Homo sapiens: one gene and its partner. The protein of the gene in region 1 interacts with the protein of each later gene in a biochemical or structural test. Each region holds a gene or a part of one and is shown on either strand. Other genes may lie near its edges. The genes, in order: RBM25 and CYLD.

Region 1 (3,826 bases):
TGGCCTCCCAAAGTGTTGGGATTGCGTGAGCCACCGCACTTGGCCAATATGCCTTTTTTAAAATGGCAGCTATATGAACTATATTGACATAGAAAATTCACCTGTAAGTGCACAATTCAATGATTTTTGGTAAATATACAAAGTTATGCATCCATTACCCCAAAAGGATTCCTTCTGTCTGTTTGCAAGTCACCCTGTTCCACCCCAGTTTCAGGCAAGCCCTCATTTTTCTGTATAGATAGTAGTAGATAGCGCTGCTTTTTTGTTTTATTTGGTTTTTGAGATGGGGTCTCTTTCACCCAGGTGGAGGGCAGTGCTGCGATCTTGGCTCACTGCAACTTCCGCATTTCAGGCTTAAGCAATCCTCCCACCCCAGCCTCCCAAGTAGCTGGGACCACAGGTGCACGCCACCATGCCTGGCTATTTTTTTGTATTTTTGGTAGAGATGGGGTTTCACCATGTTGCCCAGGCGGGTCTGGAACTCAGGCTCAAAGGATCCACCTGCCTCGTCCTCCCAAAGTGCTGGGATTACAGGTATGAGCCACTGTGCCCAGCCTTGTTTTTGTTTTTAAAAAGATGAATTCTTCCTGTGTTGCTCAGGCTGGAGTGCAGTGGCTATTCACAGGCGTAATCCCACTATTGATCAGTTTGGGAGTTTTGCCCTTCTCTGTTGGCAACCTGGTGGTTCTCTCTCATCCCAGGAGGTCACCATATTAATGCTGAATGGACTTAGCATGAACACCTGATCAGTAGCGTGCTGCAGCCCAGAACTCCAGGGCTCAAGTGATCCTCCTGCGTAGCTGTGACTATAGGCAGGCACAGGAGTGTTGCTCTTTAATCATTGAAAATGGTAAAACAACAAAAGTGGCAATGTCAGAAAAAGATCAACTCTTTTTTGGAGATTTCCAAACAATTGAGTATTTTCATACTTCTGAAAAGCTTTGCTGTAAAAGTAGTTTTTCTGTTAAGCATTTCCCATTCTTCTTTGGGCATAAAACACTTTTTTTTTTCTAGGAATAATTCCTGCAGACCTGACACATAATTGGAAGTAGATATTGAATGAATGAGTGAGTTGTATGTGAATATTTGCTCAGAGGAATCTCAGTTCATTATCATTTCAGAAATTTGGCACGTAGTGTACTGATGGAGCTAGTCTAAAATAATCTATCCTGGGAGAAATAATTTTGTTTCTATCTGGATAAGTCTACAATAGAGGAATGCTTATTAGCAGTGTTTTGCTGTATTTTGCATACTTGCAGTATTCTTAAGAGTGCAGAAAAAAATAGTTTGAAAGATTCAAAGAGAAAAAAGTGAAAAAAGAAAAGCTGAGTGCATGCATATGTTGAGTACTAGAGATATGTCTTCAGGGTTTCTTTTTGGACCAGATTTCTTGAGATAAAATTTGCATACAATAAAATGCATCTGTTTTAATTTCAATGAGTTTAGACAAATGCATATACTTGTGTGACCACCGCTACACTAGAGGTAGGGAACCCTTCTATCATAGGTTTCTGTTATTTTATTTAATTTTTGGGGGGCCTCACTCTGTCGCCCAGGCTTGAGTGCAGTGGTGTGAGCTCGGCTCATTGCAACCTCCACCTCCCGGGCTCAAGCGATTCTCCCATCTCAGCCTCCTGAGTATCTGGGACCACAGGTGCATGCTACCACACCTGGCTAATTTTTTGTATTTTTGGTAGAGATGGGGTTTCACCATGTCGCCCAGGCTGGTCTTGAACTCCTGAGCTCAAGTGATCTGCATGCCTTGGCCTCCCAAAACGCCGGGATTACAGGTATGAGCCACTGCACCTGGCCCAGGTTCCTGTTTTTATTATCGTGGGCTATAGAGTTTCTTTTTTTTGAGATGGAGTCTGGCTCTGTCGCCCAGGCTGGAGTGCAGTGGCACAATCTCTGCTCACTGCAAGCTCCGCCTCCCGGGTTCACGCCATTCTCCTGCCTCAGCCTCCCGAGTAGCTGGGACTACAGGCGCCTGCCACTATGCCCGGCTAAATTTTTGTATTTTTAGTAGAGACGAGATTTCACTGTGTTAGCCAGGATGGTCTCGATCTCCTGACTTCGTGATCCACCCACCTCGGCCTCCCAAAGTGCTGGGATTACAGGCTTGAGCCACCGCGCCCGGCCCGGAGTTTCATACTTAGCAGGAAAAGGTGCTTTGAACCTTCTAAAATGTGAGGTACTTTCAATATTTTAAAAAATGCTATGGAAATGATTTCAGTGCCATAAGATAACTCTGCATTTCTCTCTTTTAAATCCCACATATTATACAATCCCTCAGCAAATCCTATTGGCTGCCTTCAAAATATATCCAGGATCCAACAACTTGATAGCACTTTCACCACTACCACCTGTTCCAGGCCACCATCTCTCCAGGCTACCATCTCTTATATGGATTATTGTACCAGTCTCTTGCTTGTATCCTGTTCCCTTCCAGGCTTAACACAGTGGCCAGTGATACTGTTAAAATGTGACAAGTCAGAAACTCTTCAAATGATTTTCACCTCATTCAGAGTTAAAACTAAAATGTTTATTTACATTGTGTTACATAGCCCTACACTCTACTCATAATACTCAGTATTTATTTCTGATTTTCTTCATTTATTCTGCTCCAGTCATACTGTTGGCCTTGCTATTCCTCCCTCAAATACACCATTCCTGCTTCAGCCTCTTTGTATTTGTCTTTTCCTTTGCTTGGAAGTCTCTTTCCCCCAGATATGAATAGGGCTTCCTGCCTCTGCCTCTTTTAAATCTTTGTTCTAATCTTCACCTTCTTGGTGAGGCCTAATCGCTGTATTTAAAATAAACTACTCCATAGCTCTCTTCCCTAATTTATTTTTCTACAAAGTACATACCATCTTTCAATGTATTATAATTTATTTTGTTTATCATCTATAGGTAACAGATAAGCTTTGCTTATGATTATGAAAGTTAATTCTCAATCAGTTTCACATGGCAAAACACATAAACCTGTGTTGAAATAAGTAGTTGGTAATCTTTTAGGCTGCTTAAAGTGGACATTAGTATTTATCAAAGATGAGAAATGTTTTCTGATTTTCCATGAGAGACCAATCTTTTTTATTTTTGTTTTGAAATGGAGTCTCGCTCTGTCACCCAGGTTGGAGTGCAGTGGCGCGGTCCCAGCTCACTGCAACCTCTGCCTCCCAGGTTTAAGCAATTCTCCTGCCTCAGTCTCCCGAGTAGCTGGGACTACGGGCGCCTACCACCATTCCTGGCTAATTTTTGTATTTTTAATAGAGACGGGCTTTCACCATGTTGGCCAGTCTGGCCTCGAACTCCTGACCTTGTGATCCGCCCGCCTCAGCCTCCCAAAGTGCTGGGATTACAGATGTGAGCCACCGCGCCCAGGAGAGGCCAGTTATCTTAAAGGAATATCCATAAAAATTAGCTGTTAACTGGTATTTTTGCCTTCACCTTTGAAGTCCAGCCTATCAACAAGCAAGTTTTGGCAGCTCCAAATAAAGGGGAATATGTTATGGAAAAATTTGAAGTGAATGGAATGGGTATATTGGCATAAACGAAAATTAAATATATCTGGTTAACTCTGCAGAATGAATTACACATTTAAAAACCATAAAATATAACTTAAATACCAAGAATATAGAGTTTTACTTTTTTTTTTTTTTTAGACGGAGTCTTACTCTGTCGTTCAGGTTGGAGTGCAGTGGCGCGACCTCGGCTCACTGCAACATCTGCCTCCCAGGTTCAAGCAATTCTCCTGCCTCACCTTCCAGAGTAGCTGGGATTACAGGTGCGCACCACCACACCTGGCTAATTTTGTTTGTTTGTTTGT
Region 2 (3,826 bases), on another chromosome or scaffold:
ATCTGTATCTAGACCCCTGTTCTATTTCAATGCTCCTTTACCAAAGATAAATTAGAACATGTTCTTTAAAGTACTCCAAATTAGATCATGTTAAATATTCAAAGTGTTCAATTTGCAAGTAAATTGGTCCTAAAACTAATACATATATATATAAACTATACATATATATGTGTGTATATATATGTGTGTATATATATGTTTATATATATATATACATATATATATAAACTAATATATATATCACAAAGATATTTAATCCAAAATTTTCTTACCATGTCCACACCAACAAAATATCCTAAGCTTTCTTTTCCTGGCAAAACATCACAGAATATAACTGTTCCAGATTCTATTGTTTCTCCAACCTTCAAAGAAACTCTGGAGTTTATTTCCAAAGGAGGAAGTTCGACCTGCATTGTGTCCCCAGGACCTGCGTAATCACTTTCCAATGCAGTGTCATCATCTTCTATGAGTTCTAGCTTGTCCAATGCAACAAACACGCCACAATCTTCATCACACTGAAAAAGCTGTTTCCCTTGGTACACCCCGTCAGTGAAACCTTGACCACGACCTTCTTCCTAGTTTTTAAGAGAGAAGGGAAAGAAATAGATATAGAAAGACGATCCATAGGAAAAGGGGTTCACTCTAGGGATTTCAGGAAAATCACTCTGGAAAATTTCTAAATGATACATATAATAAGAAATACAATTATTAGCAGTTTCTGTTGGATTTAGAGTGTTTTAAAAAATAAGAAGTTGTATCTGATGCTGAAATAATATTATCTGATAATTTCAATTCATAACTCTATCATGAGAAAGCTAGGCTGAATTCCACGTTGTGATTCTAACATTAATTTGGTTATAAAAAGAAAATGTTACTTTAAAATAGCAGTAATGTTAGCTCCATTCATTAAGCACTTATTGTCAGTCACTGTGCTTAAATCCTGCATCAATGTACCACAAAAACACTACAAGTCATGTACTATTAACACCATTGTACAGGTAAGGATGCAGAATGAGAGAAGTTAAGTAGCTTTGTTAAGTAACCTGGCAACCCAGCTAGTAAATGGCTTAACTGGGATTCAAATTCCTAATTGTTTACAATCACTGCTTTTAAAAAAAATTAAATCAAGAAGCAAAGAAGACATGCAATTCTATTGGCAAGAGTGTCAAAATGTAATTGGCATTTCAGTTCTTGTGAATGAATATTAAGTTTGGAAACATATCACAGCATTCTTGGGTCTCCTTCCGGTAGAAATAAATTCTAAGGATTTTCACATATATTATCGGGGACAATTATAAGCAAGTTTAAATTTCTGCAACTTTTTTTTCAAAAATCTTATATCTAAATTGTTATTTAATAACATACATTAAGAAGAACTAAGAAACCTATAGATGATAACGCAAGGTAATTAACAATTTTTTATGTAACTATTTACAACTGGTAGCGTTCATGTTTAATACAGGCAATGTTAAAATTTCTAAAATATATATGTCTGCAATAGCCAGGTGAATCTCTTTGTATGTTCCTACCATAGTACATAGTTTTTTAAGTTTCGACATCATCTTTACATCTTCGCAATTCATCATTAAAAAGTAAACAAAAGAAATTAAATCAAGAAGCAAAGAAGGCATACAATTCTATTTGCAAGAATGTCAAAATATAATTGACATTTAAGTTCTCAAGAATGAATATTAAGCTTGGAAACATATCACAGAGTTCTTGGGTCTCTTTCCAACAGAAATAAACGCCAAGGTGATTTTCACACATATTATCAGTGACAACTATAAGCAAGTTTTGGATTATGGATTCAACCACAACATGGATTCATCAGCAAGGATGATGAATATTAAAAATTACAGAAGACTCTTGGGAAAATTTATTTCGTATTTAAGGAGAAAAATATGTATGTGCATACAAATACACAGACACACATGAACACAAACAAACACACTACTAAAATGGTTTATCAAACTTACCAGCAATTCAACTCCAAAGAATATTCCGGAGACTGTCCTCTCTGCTAACAGGGGTCCTCTGAAGCGTACAACTCCAGGAAATTTTTCTTCCCCAGATCTCAGCTGTACTTTCACAGGACAGCCCACGTCTATTTGGAGGCCTTTACTTAGTCTGTTTCTGTTTTTAAACAGGCTGAACCTCTCCTCACAATTGGTAATTGCCAAAAGTAACTCTGTGAACTTTTCATTTATCTCTACAACATCCTTTTCATCAACAAAGAGAACTGCATGAGGTTGCTCTAGAATTTTTAATCCAATCTGATTTTTCTTGCCTTTTGCAGAAGGAATCCTTGAATGCCCCACAGAACGATCTTGAATATACTGTCCTATACTTCCCTTCGGTACTTTAAGGAGCTTTTGTGTTTGTTTGTCTGTAACGCTGCATTCTTGAAGAAGCAAGTAAAAAATCCGCTCTTCCCAGTAGGGTGAAGTGACTTTTTCTTGGCTCCATAAGCCTGAACTCATTGTGATATTAACTTCAAAATACTAATTCAAAAAAGGGAAACTACTAATAACTTTGTCATAAAACCGCAAAAGATAAATTCAGTGGCAGTCCCAAAGCATGTTTTCAGCAACGTGGTGTCCATGCTGTAAAAAGAAAGGAAATCAAAATGCCTAGTGAAAAAGCAAAAATAAACTTTAGACTTCATTCTACATGACTGAAAATTAAGACTGAAGACTTTTAAAATTTTCATTTGACCAGTAAACACATACACACAAATGAAATATTTTCAAAAAATATCTAAAAGGGCTAAAAGACATACATACTGTATTACTTTTATCTACTGTAACTGTGCATATTTAATTAATGAAATCCAATTGTAAAGTACTTTCAAAGACAACACAATGTTTGCTTCCAAGACACTGAAATTTATAAAATCAGATTCTAGTAAAAACTTTTAAAGATTACCCTTATATACATATTCTAACTTTTTTTAATTTATTTTTATTTATTTGTTTTGAGACAGGGTCTCACTCTTGTTGCCCATGCTGGACTGCAGTGGCACAATCACAGTTCACTGTGGCCAAGACCTTCCAGGCTCAAGTGATCCTCCTACCTCAGCCTCCCGAGTAACTGGTATTATAGACGCATATCACCACACACAGCTAAGCTTTCTATTTTTTGTAGAGACAGGGTCTCACTATGTTGCCTAAGCTGGTCTTGAACTCCTGGGCTCAAACAATCCTCCTGTCTTGGCCTCCCAACGCACTGGGATTACAGTCGTAAGCCACCAGGCCTGTCCCATATTCTGACACTAATAAACTTTTAAAAGTAGCGTTTCGGGCTGAGCTGTGTGGCTCATGCCTATAAATGATAGCTATGATATGGCCATATTGTGATAATGGAACATTTTACCTCTGACTCAACTTCATTTCATATATTTTTTCTGAAGATGGGCAATGTTCATCACATTAATCATAGTTATCTGATTTCTCAAATCGCAAATATCAGATATTATAATATGACTATATTAAAAATATTTTAAAAATCAATTTTGTAGCATCAAAACTTGTACTACATAGCAAGGGAATATCATGATATAACTGCATTATAATTTCTTTCTATTATTTCTTTTTCAAATTTTCATTTATTTTTATTTTATTTATTTATTTTTAAGACAGGGTCTCGCTCTGTCACCCAGGCTTGGGTACATTGGTGCGATCATAGCTCACTGCAGTTTCAAACTCCTGGACTCAAATGATCCTCCCACCTTGGCCTTCCAAGGTTCTAGGATTACAGGCATGAGCAACTGCACCTGGTCCTCATTTAAAATTTTTACAAGAATAATAATCTTTCCAATGAAGTAGGC

The links.
Region 2: the proteins of RBM25 (region 1) and CYLD interact in a test that uses a peptide from one of them, tested with the Homo sapiens proteins (one large-scale study listed by IntAct).

Annotation. Positions count from the first base shown.
Region 1 is NC_000014.9:73,061,310-73,065,135, forward strand, and holds part of RBM25 (RNA-binding protein 25), read left to right. Parts: intron 1-3,662; exon of another isoform or gene 3,663-3,784; intron 3,785-3,826. UniProt on the Homo sapiens protein: RNA-binding protein that acts as a regulator of alternative pre-mRNA splicing. Involved in apoptotic cell death through the regulation of the apoptotic factor BCL2L1 isoform expression.
Region 2 is NC_000016.10:50,748,353-50,752,178, reverse strand, and holds part of CYLD (ubiquitin carboxyl-terminal hydrolase CYLD), read right to left. Parts: intron 2,631-3,826; exon of another isoform or gene 2,604-2,630; 5' UTR 2,481-2,603; coding exon 1,977-2,480; intron 576-1,976; coding exon 273-575; intron 1-272. UniProt on the Homo sapiens protein: Deubiquitinase that specifically cleaves 'Lys-63'- and linear 'Met-1'-linked polyubiquitin chains and is involved in NF-kappa-B activation and TNF-alpha-induced necroptosis.